Linked DNA regions of Homo sapiens. The protein of the gene in region 1 purifies or fractionates together with the protein of each later gene. This does not show direct contact. Each region holds a gene or a part of one and is shown in the gene's direction. Other genes may lie near its edges.

Region 1 (7,021 bases):
TACCTTAACTTGAATTACATAAAGTAGTTAATCATTTAGATTACCTAAACTTCACTGGAATCCTTAGGAGTAGGAATTTTGTTAGCAGGGAAATGGAGAGGTAATTTTGGATCACTGGGCACTTCAAGAAAGGACATTCCTGGGTGAGTGGTGGAAGTTGGGGGCTTTAGACAATCTGAGGGCAGCATGATGGTGCCGGGAGGCTGGGCAGGGGGACTGCCAGGAGGTGGGAGAGAAATGCATAAGGGAGGTGGGAGGGCCAAAGACAAACTCTGCCTTCTTTGCAATTTTGCCTAGGGCCCTGGTGGTGGCAACCGCCTGTGTGCCACTGAAAATCGTGCCGATGCCTGGCATACTGCATAAATGGAAGCAGGGTACCGCGTGAGTTGAAACATTGGTCACACTATATAAAGTTTGTATATGTGAATCAGTGTAACTCATACCCATATAACTGGGGGTCTGACTGTATTTGGATTTTTCTGATAAGGCATCATGGGCTAAGGAAAAGAGCACTGGGCTGAGACTCAGGAGACCTGGTTTCTAGCCCCAGCTGTACCTCTAATTGTAACCTTGGGTAAGTCACTTAACCTTTTTTGCCTCAAGTTAAATCTGTAATTTGTTATATGGGAAACCAAATAATTTCCTATGTTATACTCAGAAATGTTGAAAAATAAATATATTTTAAGTTTTTTTAGAAAGGAGCTATAAGTAGATAGTAATTACTAGTTTATTTTATCTTGTTTATGATTCATTACGTTTTATAAATATCTTTCTGTTTTAGTTGTTAGCAGAGGGGAGAGGGATAATTTGTTTTCCCTGAACATATTCATTCTATTTGAAAGCAGGGAGGAGTTGCACAGGAAAATCCAAGAAACAGTTTGAGAATTGTCTGTGTGACAGTTGGAAGAACCCAGTACCCTCACACAGACTGTGATTTTTGCTCAGTTGGATTAATTGCAAGGATGTTCCTTAGCTAAAGCCCCTTTGCCAACAAACACAGTTTGGTCATAAGTCTCTAGTCTTGATCCCAGGAAAGTCTGGGAAGATGCAAGCAATAAGAATTAAATAAAATTGAGGGTGTGGATTTAGATTACATCCTTTTTTTTTTTTTTTTTTTTTTTTTTTGAGACAGGGTCTCTGTTGCCCAGGCTGGAGTGCAGTGGCACGATCTCGGCTCACTGCTACAACCTCCACCTCCTGGGTTCGAGTGATTCTCCTGCCTCAGCCTCCCGAGTAGCTGGGATTACAGGTGGCTGCCACTACGTCTGGCTAATTTTTGTATTTTTAGTAGAGATGGGGTTTCTCCATGTTGGCCAGGATGGTCTCGAACTCCTGACCTCGGGTGATCCACCATGCCCAGCCTAGATTACATTTTAAGCTTAGAAATTAGGTAAGTTATAGAAGGTAGTTCTGAGGGTTCTGTATCTCTTAATTGCTTATACCTTTAAATGGGAGCAGAGACCACCTTCGAAAGATTAAAATAGGCAGGAATGGCAGCCTGCCCTCCAAAACAACAAGTAGACTAGGAATGTTAGATAGAATTTTATAGCATCATTAATTGTCCCTTATGGTTAGGGACTGTTTCGGGCAAGTTAAAACTTTCAATAATTTTAACTATTTTAAATGTTAATCTTTCTAAATTGTAGGATATACTTCCTCAGTTAACATATTAATCATAATATTTTTGCTGATCAGTTGTACAGTAGTTATAGTTTGTGGGATATAAAACTGAAAGGATACTCATCCTCATACCCAGGAAAATACTGTTAAGAAAGCCATTTACTTGTTGCTAATGTAAGGTTAGTAGTACATAACCGTGTAATCTGTAAGATAGTATGACATTTCTGCCTTTCTGCAAAATTACTGAATCAAAGTTTGAAGTAGTGCGTTCTTTAATGGATTTTATTTATAAAATCATCTTTACTGTAATCTGTGTTCCTTGACTTTTCATCAACATTGAAAACATTTTCTCTTAATTTTTTCTCATTAACATAATGAACCATATTCATTTCTTGGTCAGTTGTGAGCCATTCTTTTATTCCACTTGGATTGTTCATTTTAAGTGAAGGAGGCGGAGCCTTTAATGTATACGCAGACATTTTTTAAATAATAACAGGATATTTCTTAGTCTAGAGCTTGTAAATTCTTTAATATAAGGAGTTTTATAGGATTAAACAGTAGTTTCTCTGCGTTTCAGTTAACTATTTAACTTTATCAGAGTTTCAGGCATATCCAAAACACTGAAAGCACCTGCATAGTGAATCAATGAAAAAAGAAAAGTTTTCCTCATTTTGCATTTTGAACTCTGAATAATATTTCTATCTACACAGCAGCCCAGAAAACAATAAAAGTATCACTTCATATAACATTGCATCGTTCCTGGATTCTCTACAGTTGTTTAGTTCTCCTCAAGTAAGCATATGCTTCTGAGACATTCTTTTACTTCAGGTAAATATAAGCAAAACAAAGAAAAATCATTTTGTCTATTTCTGCATCAGTTCTATAAGGAGCAAGTAAATTCTTTTATTTTCGTTTAGGTTGGATGTTGTCATATAAGGATAGATGGTAGTGTTCAACGTGTTCAAGATGGGTAGTAGGAATTCAATGGCCATGAGGTGTCATGGATCAAGGTCAGGTTTAGTGAATCAGGTACTCTTCAGTAACAGGTGGTTCATACAAAGCATTGAAGCTTAAAGTTGCTGTGAGTTCAGCAAGCAGGAGGGTTGAGAAGACAGGCAGATGGTTTAAAACTAAAGGTCAATAAGTGGGCAAGACTAGTTAAATGAGGCAGATACTCCCCAAAGATGGAATTCCAGAAAGGTGCTTGAAAAGGACTGAATTCTTAAAGCCTACTGCTGTTAGTATGTAGAGTTCTTGAGGAAACAAGCAGTTTGGCATAACTTAATCTACTAAGAAACTATAAGAAGGTGAAGGAAGTTGGAACATCTTACTGGAAAAAGAATGAGGGAGTGAAGAGGGAATCTTGTGAATTCAAAACTTGCAGAAAAGCTATTCTGTTTCCTTTTTGTTTAGGTTCTCATGCACTAGCAGCTGCTAGAATAGATATTGGAAGGCAGGGCCAAAATAGGTCAGTTGTTCAGTTTTGCAAGATTATTGAGGATATAGAGAAATTAATTTGTGAAAACTCTGAAATCATCTGCAGCTCCATGTTTTTGTTTGAACTGAATAACTTAGGACTTTGAGAAGTCAAAGCCGTCAGAAAGTAACATGAAGTCCATTCAGCTGAATAAATGTCATATTTTGCTATTAGCATAGAAAAGAATCTTTAAAACTTCTTTCCAAAAAGCACTCAGTATTGACCCATATGTTCCAGTATAGTTGTGAACCATGTACAACTGATGTTTGACTTATTTGACTCAACATGAAAGGAATTTAACCAGCTGCCCTTGCTGAATCTTGTCTCCTGAATATGGTAAATGGTTTTTGTTTTTAATCTTAATACCTTAGATTTCTGCAGACCCCAGTTTTCTCTTTTAGAGTTAACTGATAATTATTGGATAGTATCTATAATATACCTGGCTGTTCTGTTCTGTACTGTGCTCTAGTATTAGTTTAAATGGTAGACTTTTCTCTTAAAGTAACTTTAATAGTTTAATAGTTAAAGTTACTTGAAGGTATGTTTTAGATCAGGGACTGGCACTATGGCCTCCTGCTTTTGGTAAATAAAGTTTTATTGGAACACATCCATGCCGATTCATATACATGATGTCTATGGCTGCTTTGGCTTACGACAGCAGAGCTGAATGGTTGCAACAGAGTCATATGGCCCGCAAACCGAAAACATTTACCATTTGACTCTAACAAAAGCTTGTTGATCACCATTCTGGTTTAGTTATTCTAAACCAAGTGTGGTCCTTGGAGCAGCAATTCAGCATCACCTCAGCATCACGTCGTATTGTTAGAAATATAAATTCTTGGACCCACCTACTGAGTCAGAAATTCTGGATATGGGCCCCAGCAATCCATGTTTTTAGAAACCTTCCAGGTGATTCTGATACACATTAAAAGTTTGAGAAACCCTCTTCTAGATCAGTGTTTCCCAAATGTTTGTCACACTTATTGCCTTTATTATTATTTATTTTTATTTTTTATTTTTTGGAGACAGAGTCTCTGTCTCCCAGGCGTGAAATGCAGTGGCCTGATCTTGGCTCACTGCAACCTCCGCCTCTCGAGTTCAGGCGATTACCCTAGCTTCCCGAGTGGCTGAGATGACAGGCATGCACTGTCATGCCCTGCTAATTTTTGTATTTTTAGTAGAGATGAGGTTTTGCCATGTTGGCCAGGCTGGTCTCAAACTCCTGACCTCAAGTGATCTACCTGCCTTGGCCTCCCAAAGTGCTGGTATTACAGGCGTGAACCACCATGCCTGGCCTTGCCTTTATTATTATTTACTGTTTTCTGTTTATTTAATATTTTCCTTTATGTCAACTCACTTTCTAAAAATTTTAAGTTAATTTTAAAATGAAAGTTTATACCACCATAAAAATAAATACAATGAAAACAAAATGGTGTATTATGTAACTAGACTCTTGTCACTTAGGGTTCCTGTGCTAAAAATTAGAAGTTGTTAAATTTATTAAACAAGTACTGTTGCAAAATGGGAACTTTTTTTCTTGACTTAATTGTGATTAATAATTTCCTTACTGAGTGGTATTTAAAATGTCTTGTTGGCAAAATCATGTAACACCTAAAGTCATCTTTTGTGCAAATCTCATACTTTGGAAATTACTGTTCCAGGGAGTATTCATGTGAAAGGAAAGCTGTTTGAACTATATATATACCTAAGCCTGTAAGCAGAAATGACTGGACAGAAATACAAGCCTGTGAGACAGAGAGATCTAGGAGATCCCTAGAGAGGTCCATCAAGACCTCCAGGATGAAATTACCTCATTTAGCTCAATTTCTCACCTCTCCGTTAGTGCTTTGGTCCACGGGGGTCAGTGTTTCTGCAGGATTTCACCAACTGGTTCCACAGTGGGAATGTGAAGAGGTACCTGGCTGTGGGAAAAGCTGCTTATCAAAGAGAGGCCTGATAGAAATGCTAGGGAAAGTGGCTGTGAGCCTGCATTATGGACGGGAGCAGAGCGGCAGGGCATGTTGCTAGGACTAAGCAGTCGATTCACGTGAGTCTGGACACCATGTATAAATATTTTGAAAACTTCCTGTTACAATTTAATTTACTCCATTGTGTTAGAGGGAGTGCTTCCCTGCACATGGTGTTCTGTATATTTATTGGTTGATGTGCTTTAGGGTATAGTAATTATTTATAGCAATAGATTGATACCCAGGTTGCAGAGTTGCTTTAGTTATATCTTTATTTCCTTTTCTTAGAGATTATAGACATAATTTGCTTCTGTCATCTTTTGACCAAAAATCTAATGGGAATGAAGAATTACACTTGAATGTTTATTTTTAAGTAATAAGTTCTGTGATAGTGATTATAGGTGTCTGCATTTAAAAAAATGTTTTAAAAAGTACAGAGGTCAAACAAGCATCTGTATGATTGAACAAATGTTATTTCGTATATTTCTGTCAAATTTTAAAAAATGGATAAAGAGGCCGGGCACTGTGGCTCACGCCTGTAATCCCAGCACTTTGGGAGGCCAAGGTGGGTGGATCACCTGAGGTCAGGAGTTCAAGACCAGCCTGGCCAACATGGTGAAACCTGTCTCTACTAAAAATATAAAAATTAGCCAGATGTGGTGGTGGGTGCCTGTAATCCCAGCCACCCGGGAGGCTGAGGTTGGAGAATTGTTTGAACCCAGGAGACGGAGGTTGCTGTGAGCCCACATGGTGCCAATGCACTCCAGCCTGGGCGACAGAGTGAGACACCGTCTCAAAAAAAAAAAAAAAGTAAAAAGTGCATAAAGCATTACAAATAAAGTCTTTTGTGGTCCCCTTCACCGTCTCAGTCCTTTCCCCAGAGGCAACCCTTTTTGTAAATTTGTTGCATATTCACTGTGAGGCAGTATTTCTGCTGTGTTGTTTAGTTTTAAGGCTCACGTCTCCTTCATGGTGATCTGTTTTTCATTTTAACTTCTTCCTTTATCATTGGGTTGTCTATCACCTCTGTCCCTTGATATTTTCATCTTTTTTTTTCTTTTTTATTTCTTTTCCTTTGGATTTGGGGAGGCTCTAGTTGGCTTCTGTAGCTATCACCAGCTGATGAGAACTTGTCTTTTTTAATAGATAAATCAGCCAGTTACTTTTTCTTTGATTATTTTCAGCTATTGCTTGATAGCCAAAGATAGCTTTCGTTACTTCTAATTTTGTATATAGAAAGTTCTGGATGATAGAAGGCACCGGCTATCCAGAGTGCAATTGTTACTATGTCAGAATTACAGCTCTGCAAGTAAGTATCAAAATATAAAATTTAGCAGGCTGTAACTTTTTATGCCATATATCTTAAAATAAATTCTATATAACCTATTTTAGGACTTAATGTTAAAGTAACTATTCAGGCTTTTCTGATGTCTCTTGTAAATTTAAGAAGAGGAATAGGCTGATAGATTTCCTAAAGCACATACCCCCCAAAACATGATAGCATTGGTCCCTGCCAGCTACCAAGACCCTTTGCTTGTATTAATATAATGAGAGAAGATAGGTGCAGGGCATGGAATAGAGCCTTGGAATGGAGATTCTTTAGTATTCCTGTTCTCACATTTTCATCATCACCATTCTGGTTAGCTTCAAAAGATCCTACAAGGTTTTTCTTCTACTAACAAGGCTGTTCCCCAGTTTCATTCTTATAATCTTGTGATATGGATTTTCACAGACAAGTGGGCCAGATTTTTAACATTTTAAAAACATTAATCTTTGATCATATCCAGCAAGAATGAACTTGTTCTGGAGATTTCTTCTACAGTGGGCATCACATTTTAAAAATGTTTGGCTTGTCATGGGGATTATGGTGGGGGGTGATACTGGTACCTATTTCTGATTATAAACTTATGGGACCATATGAACCAGAAGATTAAGAAGGATAGCTTTTCTGAGCTGT
Region 2 (7,011 bases), on another chromosome or scaffold:
CAATGAAAGAAATCACAGAAAAGGAACCCTTTAGAAGAGCCTGTTAATATCCTCCCTGCCCTCTAGCCTACTTCTCCTGAGAGTTGTGTACACTGGCTCAAATCTCCCCACTAATGTGCCTTCCCCTTCATGGACTCTGCTCTCCTCAAAGTCACCAATGGCCAGCAAACCTCTAGACCCAAAACAAGTTCCATCGTGAACTTATGGCAGAACATGACACTTGATCACTCCCTTCTTAAAACTCTCTCTCCAGTCTGTCCCAATGTCCCATTCCCCTGATTTTCTCTATTAATTAAAAATTTTTGCCGGGCGCAGTGGCTCACGCCTGTAATCCCAGCACTTTGGGATGCTGAGGCAGGTGAATCACAAGGTCAGGAGTTCAAGACCAACCTGGCCAAGATGGTGAAACCCCGTCTCTACTAAAAATACAGAAAGTCGCCAGGCATAGTGGCACGTGCCTGTAATCCCAGCTACTCGGGAGGCTGAGGCAGAGAACTGCTTAAAACCTGGGAGGGGGAGGTTGCAGTGAGCCAAGCTCGTGCCACTGCACTCCAGCCTTGGCAACAGAGTGAGACTCCCATCTAAAAAAAATATATATCCAGACTTTGGAAACAGAAAAAGGAAAATGCCCTGTTGGTACTGTGCCAGGTGTTATCTGCCTGGGGAACCATCTGATTCTCTACAGATGTATAGCTTTGTCTGACTTCTTATGCACTATTGATTAGGGTATTTTACAACTGAGAGTAGAGGTTTATAGAAAATTCATAACAGGTGGCTGGGTGCAGTGGCTCACGCCTGTAATCCCAGCACTTTGGGAGGCTGAAGCAGGTGGATCACAAGGTCAGGAGATCGAGACCAACCTGGCTAACACGGTGAAACCCCGTCTCTACTAAAAAAAATACAAAAAATTAGCTGGGCATGGTGGCAGGCGCCTGTAGTCCCAGTTACTCAGGAGGCTGAGGCAGGAGAATGGCGTGAACCCAGGAGGCGGAGGTTGCAGTGAGCCGAGATCGTGCCACTGCACTCCAGCCTGGGTGACAGAGCGAGACTCCATCTCAAAAAAAGAAAAAAAAAAAAGAAAAAAGAAAATTTGGCCGGGCGTGGTGGCTCACGCCTGTAATCCCAGCACTTTGGGAGGCCGAGGCGGGCAGATCACGAGGTCAGGAGATCGAGACCATCCTGGCTAACACGGTGAAACCCCGTCTCTACTAAAAATACAAAAAAGTAGCCGGGCGTGGTGGTGGGCACCTGTAGTCCCAGCTACTCGGGAGGCTGAGGCAGGAGAATGGCGTGAACCCGGGAGGCAGAGCTTGCAGTGAGCCGAGATCACACCACTGCACCCCAGCCTGGGTGACAGAGCGAGACTCCATCTCAAAAAAAGAAAAAAAAGAAAATTTATAACAAGTAAATAATTCTTGTCCAGTAGTAATGCAAATGTTTTCTGTCTGGTGGTAAAGGGAGTCCTGGAGGTTATCGTTTCTTGCCTTACAGGACATTAACTTGCCTTGTCAAATTCATCTCAGCATTCCTTTGACTGACCAACCACATATTCATTCAAGTTCCCCTTCAAACTATTCTTCATATTTCTACTGGTTTCCTCATTTTCTAATGACTGGGTAACAGCTTTGACATGTGTTCATTTTACATCTGTTTGAGAGTCATGTTTTTCAACTTTTTGAAAATCAGCCCTTACCACCTTCCTAAATTCTCTGTGTCTCCAACTCAGCAGGCTGCATCGCGAACAGGAAAGGGGATGGGAGATGGTGACTAAGGTGACCACAAAGAGCAAGGCACAGAGGGCTTTCCTGACACGCGCCTAGGAGCCTTGGTGTTTGCCTGATGTCCCGGCTTGTCCTGGACTCCTCATGTACCTGCCGGCTGGTGTGCCAGGGTGCTGGGGCTCTTCTGGATGGCACTGAACTGCAACACTGAATCCTCACCGAATTGCGTCCTCAAGCAACAAGGCATCCTCCCCAGCAGGGTGAGGGGCCTGCCCAGCCTTCTCTACTGGCCTCCTGGTGTCCATAGCTGAGGAGGGATTACTTCCTCCTCTCCCATCCCCTAACCCCACAGGCCTAGTAATGGTGGGGGCTGTGACTCTTACCTATAGCTGGCCACCCCAACTACACATTTTGTTTGAAATTAAACACACACACACACACACACCCGTACATATTCTATGTATGCATTCAACCCATTTTTTTTTTTTTTTTTTGGAGACGGAGTCTCGCTCTGTCGCCCAGGCTGGAGTGCAGTGGTATGATCTCGGCTCACTGCAACCTCCACCTCCCGGGTTCAAGTGATTCTCCTGCCTCAGCCTCCCAAGTAGTGCATGCCACCATGCCCGGCTAATTTTTTTTTTTTAGTAGAGACACGGTTTCACCATGTTAGCCAGGATGATCTCGATCTCCTGACCTCATGATCTGCCCGCCTTGGCCTCCCAAAGTGTTGGGATTACAGGCATGAGCCACCGTGCCCGGCCTCAACCCAATTTTTAAAAGTACTTTGTGTCCCATTCATCAAATAAAACTAGTCCTCTAAAGAGCTCTGTCTTGTGTTTATCCTGTGGTTTAGCCCAAATTTAAGAAAAACTGTGATGTACTGCACCCCTTCTGTTGGACCCTGTATCTACATATAAATTATCACATTTAACCCTCACAACCTCCTTTGTAGGTAGGTAATGGTCCATTTTACTGATGAAGGAACTGAGACTCCAAAGTGCTAAGCAGCTTGCCTAAGGTCACACATGGTGGATGGGGCCCGGCCAGCCAGCTCGAAACCCAGGTGTGTCTGATGCTGACCATGCTCTTCCTTGGTTTATCATTATTTGCTCCTCCATGGTCAGAGCTGGTAGGGCCTCAGGGCCTCAGAGACTGTAGGGTCTCACCTATGCCCTCCTCAGATGGGAAAACAGACCCAAAAACCTGTCCAAGGTTACCCAGGGAGGAAGATGCAAAATCAGGACTCAGGCCGGGCGCGGTGGCTCATGCCTGTAATCCCAAGACTTTGGGAGGCCGAGGCGGGTGGATCGCTTGAGGTTAGGAATTCGAGACCAGCTTAGTCAACATGGTGAAACCCTGTCTCTACAAAAAAAAAAAAAAAAAAGAAAGAAAGAAAGAAAGAGGAGAGGGAGGAAGGAAGGAAAAGAGAAAGAAAGAAAAGAAGAAAGAAAGGAAGGAAGAAAGGAATAAAGAAAGAAAGAAAGAAAGAAAAAGAAAATCAGGACTCAGAACAGCAGCTGATCAGTGACACCCTCGGGACGCGTAGACAACCCCTCTCCCCCACCAGGCTCTCGTTAGAAATATCCGCCGGAAACTATGCTCACAGGTCTACAGTGGATGGCACCCTCAGGAGTCAGGAAATCGGCGTCCAAGTTCTGGCCTTTGGGCAGGTCTCTCCCTCTTGGAGTCTCAATTTTTGTGTATGTAACATGGGCCAATTTTGGGGAGACTTTTAAGAGACAAAGACTGGCAAGGCAAGTAACTTTATAAACCTACAGATTGTCCAGAGGTGATATATCAAGGCTCATTGTAAACTCTGGAAGACTTAGATCCAGCTTTTATCCCTTAAATGGCGTCACCTTGGGTCAATTTCTATGCCTCAGTTTCCTCATATATGAAATGGGGGTCAAAATAGGATCTACTTCATAGAGTTGTTCTAAGGGTTCGAGCGCTTGGAAGTGTCTGGCCCATAGTGATCACTCAGGAAAGTTGGCTTTTAGTACAGCTTTAGCCTCAAGGCGTAGCTACATTGTAACCCTTGACTACCCCGGTCTCCTCCAAGCTCCGTAGTTCCCGCAGGCCCCGCCCCCGTCCCCGCTCAGTCCCGCCTTCTCCTCCCCAGGTCCCGCCCGCGCAGCCGGCCCGGTTTTCTCCCGCCACCAGGGGGCGGCGGCGCTAAGGGCGGCCTTCTGGGCCGAAGCCGGCGACGCTCTAGGTAGCTGCGGCGGCTCCTCTGTGGCCAGTGGCAGCGGCGCTCTAGCCGGCGGCCGTGAGGGGCGGGCTCTCAGTGGTGCGGCCGGCAGGCAGCGATGGCGGCCGTACGGGGCCTGCGGGTGTCGGTGAAGGCGGAGGCCCCGGCGGGGCCGGCCCTGGGGCTCCCGTCCCCTGAGGCGGAGTCCGGTGTTGACCGTGGCGAGCCGGAGCCCATGGAGGTGGAGGAGGGCGAGCTGGAAATCGTGCCTGTGCGGCGCTCGCTCAAGGAACTGATCCCGGTACGGGCGGGGGTCGGGGGGTAAGGAAGAGGTCGCGGGGCTAGTGTCTAGCGCCGGAGGGGGCCGGAAGGGGCGGTGGCCGGAGCCCCAGCCGGGGAAGTCAAGGGAGCGGGAGAGGAGGGAGCCAGCGTCCTGGGAACGGGAACGCCGGGCTGGAGGAGGGACGCGGAGCGGGAGAAAGGACGCCGGGGCGCCGGAAATGGGTGTTGAGGGGGCTGGGGGGTGGTGGCGGAGAGCTGGGAGGGAGTTGAGGACCCCCCTCCGCTGCCCCCTCTGAGCCGCGCTGTGCAAGGAGGTGAGTGAGGAGGGGCTGGAAGGATGAGATAAAGGGGGAGCCCTGGGCGGGAACAGAACCAGGGGCAGCCCAGAAGGAGCTGTTGGGTGGCGCCAGCAACCAGGTCTCCTTGTGGGTCTTGCCCCGGAGGAATTTGTATCTGGGAAACATGGCACTCGCTCTTTGTCTTGAGAGGGCTGCACTTGTCAGCAGCAGAAACTCACTGTTTCTGTCGTGACTTCGGGGTCATCTTGCCCCCCCCGCAGCTCCAGTGACACCTACACCGTGGCCCCAGCATCTGACTCTTAATGAAAGCAAACTAGCAGACGACCAATAGACATCCTTGGTCCCTCCTTTACCGCGCTGGGGATGGTGAGAGGTGTTTTGCTTGTGACTTGGTGGCTGTATATCCAGTTCTCAGAGCTGGTTTCAGGCCTGGATGACTCCTCTTAATTTCTCACCTAACATGAATTACTTTTGACCACATGTCAACATATTTAGACTGAAGTTATGGAGAAAGGTTAAAGTATGATCGCTAGAGATGGCAAACGTTATAATTATGATTAACAACAGCTAATATAGTAGCATTTACCATTCACTATATTGTGTCACTTAAATATACTGGCCGTGCACGCCTTTAGTGCCAGCTATTCAGGAGTCTAAGTTCCAGACCAGCCTCAGCAATATAGCAAGACCCCTTTGAGGTCCCCCCTTTCCCCTCTCCCCATCTCAAAAACAAAACCAAAATAAATAAATATTACTGCAGTTGTGAAGCAGGTGTTATCATCCCTTTAGTCATTCAGTTCAACATGGTTTTTGTTTTGTTTTGTTTTGAGACGGAGTTCGCTCTTGTTGCCCAGGCTGGAACGCAATGGCGCGATCTCGGCTCACCGCAACTTCCGCCTCCCGGGTTCAAGCCATTCTCCTGCCTCAGCCTCCTGAGTAGCCAAGTACAATGGCCTGATCTTGGCTCACCGCAACCTCCGCCTCCTGGGTTCAAGCTACTCTTCTGCCTCAGCCTCCCAAGTAGTTGAGATTACAGGGATGTGCCACCGTGCCCGGCTAATTTTGTATTTTTAGTAGAGACGGGGTTTCTCCATGTTGGCCAGGCTGGTCTCGAACACCTGACCTCAGGTGATCCGCCCGCCTCTGCCTCCCAAAGTGCTGGGATTACAGGCCTGAGCCATTGCGTCCGGCCAACATGTATTTATTGCATCCCCCGCTATGTACCAAGGCACAGCCCTAGGTGCTTGATCAAGCTCAACCTCCCTCCTGGAGTTTATGTTCCATATAAACTCTAAATGACAAAAAGCCAATCTTGTGAAGATTGAAAAGGAGTTCCCCCAGCAGGGCCAGTAACAAGCACAGAGGCTCTGGGATGGGTCCAGGATTGTTGGAAACTTCTGTAGTACTAATGGAAGGGCAGTAAAAGAGGTCAGGAAGGCAGGTAGATACCACAGAGGAAACTGAGACCCAGAGAGGTCAAGAAAACTATACAGTGTCCTGTAATTAGTGACTGTCAGAGCTGAGGCTTCAGTCCTCGCTTGGTTTCCAAATCCCATCCCCTTTGCATTGCACTGTGCTGTATTTGCCTCAGGAGTTCTAGGTGAGGCTGGACCTTCTGCGTTGAGGTGGAGGGTTGTGCTCCACCTGGTGGCTGGGCATGAGGAATTCGTTCAGACTGGGTTGGGGAGCTAAGTGACTGTGCCTTATCTTTTGACATTTTCCACAAAAGCCTTTAGATTTTCTTTACATGGATACTTGGAGTTGATGGAATCACTTCAGTTTTTGGACAGGCTCTGATCTTCTTATTGGAGTGGTTGATTGATACCATGGAATCACTAGGATGGGGCTTCTTAATAAAAGGTTGTCAGGGGTGGGGAAGGGTTTTGAAAAGAGTGGCTATTCAAAAAGAACCAGACTTGCCAGGTGTGGTGGCTCATGCCTGTATCCCAGCACTTTGGGAGGCTGAGACAGACGGATCACCGAGGTCAGGAGTTTGAGACCAGTATGCCAACATGGTGAAACCTCGTCTCTACTAAAAATAAAAAAATTAGCTGGCGGTGGTGGCACATGCCTGTAATCCCAGCTACTCAGGAGGCTGAGACAGGAGAATCGCTTGAACCCAGGAGGTAGAGGTTGCAGTGAGCCGAGTTTGTGCCACTGCACTCCCGCCTAGGCGATAAGAGTGAGACTCCATCTCAAAAAACAAACAGAAAAACAGAAAGAACCAGACTGGTTGTGATGACTCACACATGTGATCCTAACACTTTGGGAGACTGAGGCAGGAGGACTGCTTTAGCCCAGGAGTTGGTGACCAGCCTGGGCAACATAGGGAGACCCTGTCTCTACAAAATAAAAAAAAAATTAGCTGGGCATGGTGGCATATGCCTGAGGGCCCAGCTGAGGGGGAGGATGGCGTGAGCCTGGGGAGTCGAGGCTGCGGTGAGCTGTGATCATTCTACTGCACTCCGGCCTGGGCAACAGAGCAAGACACTGTCACCAACAAAAAAAAAAAAAAAAG

The links. The genes of interacting proteins can lie anywhere in the genome.
Region 2: the proteins of LUC7L2 (region 1) and NCBP3 purify together in Homo sapiens (co-immunoprecipitation; 5 studies listed by BioGRID and IntAct, with this or other methods). This does not show direct contact.

The regions. Positions count from the first base shown.
Region 1 is NC_000007.14:139,362,879-139,369,899, forward strand, and holds part of LUC7L2 (putative RNA-binding protein Luc7-like 2), read left to right. Parts: intron 1-7,021. UniProt on the Homo sapiens protein: May bind to RNA via its Arg/Ser-rich domain.
Region 2 is NC_000017.11:3,843,243-3,850,253, reverse strand, and holds the start of NCBP3 (nuclear cap-binding protein subunit 3), read left to right. Parts: upstream 1-4,007; 5' UTR 4,008-4,030; coding exon 4,031-4,213; intron 4,214-7,011. UniProt on the Homo sapiens protein: Associates with NCBP1/CBP80 to form an alternative cap-binding complex (CBC) which plays a key role in mRNA export. NCBP3 serves as adapter protein linking the capped RNAs (m7GpppG-capped RNA) to NCBP1/CBP80.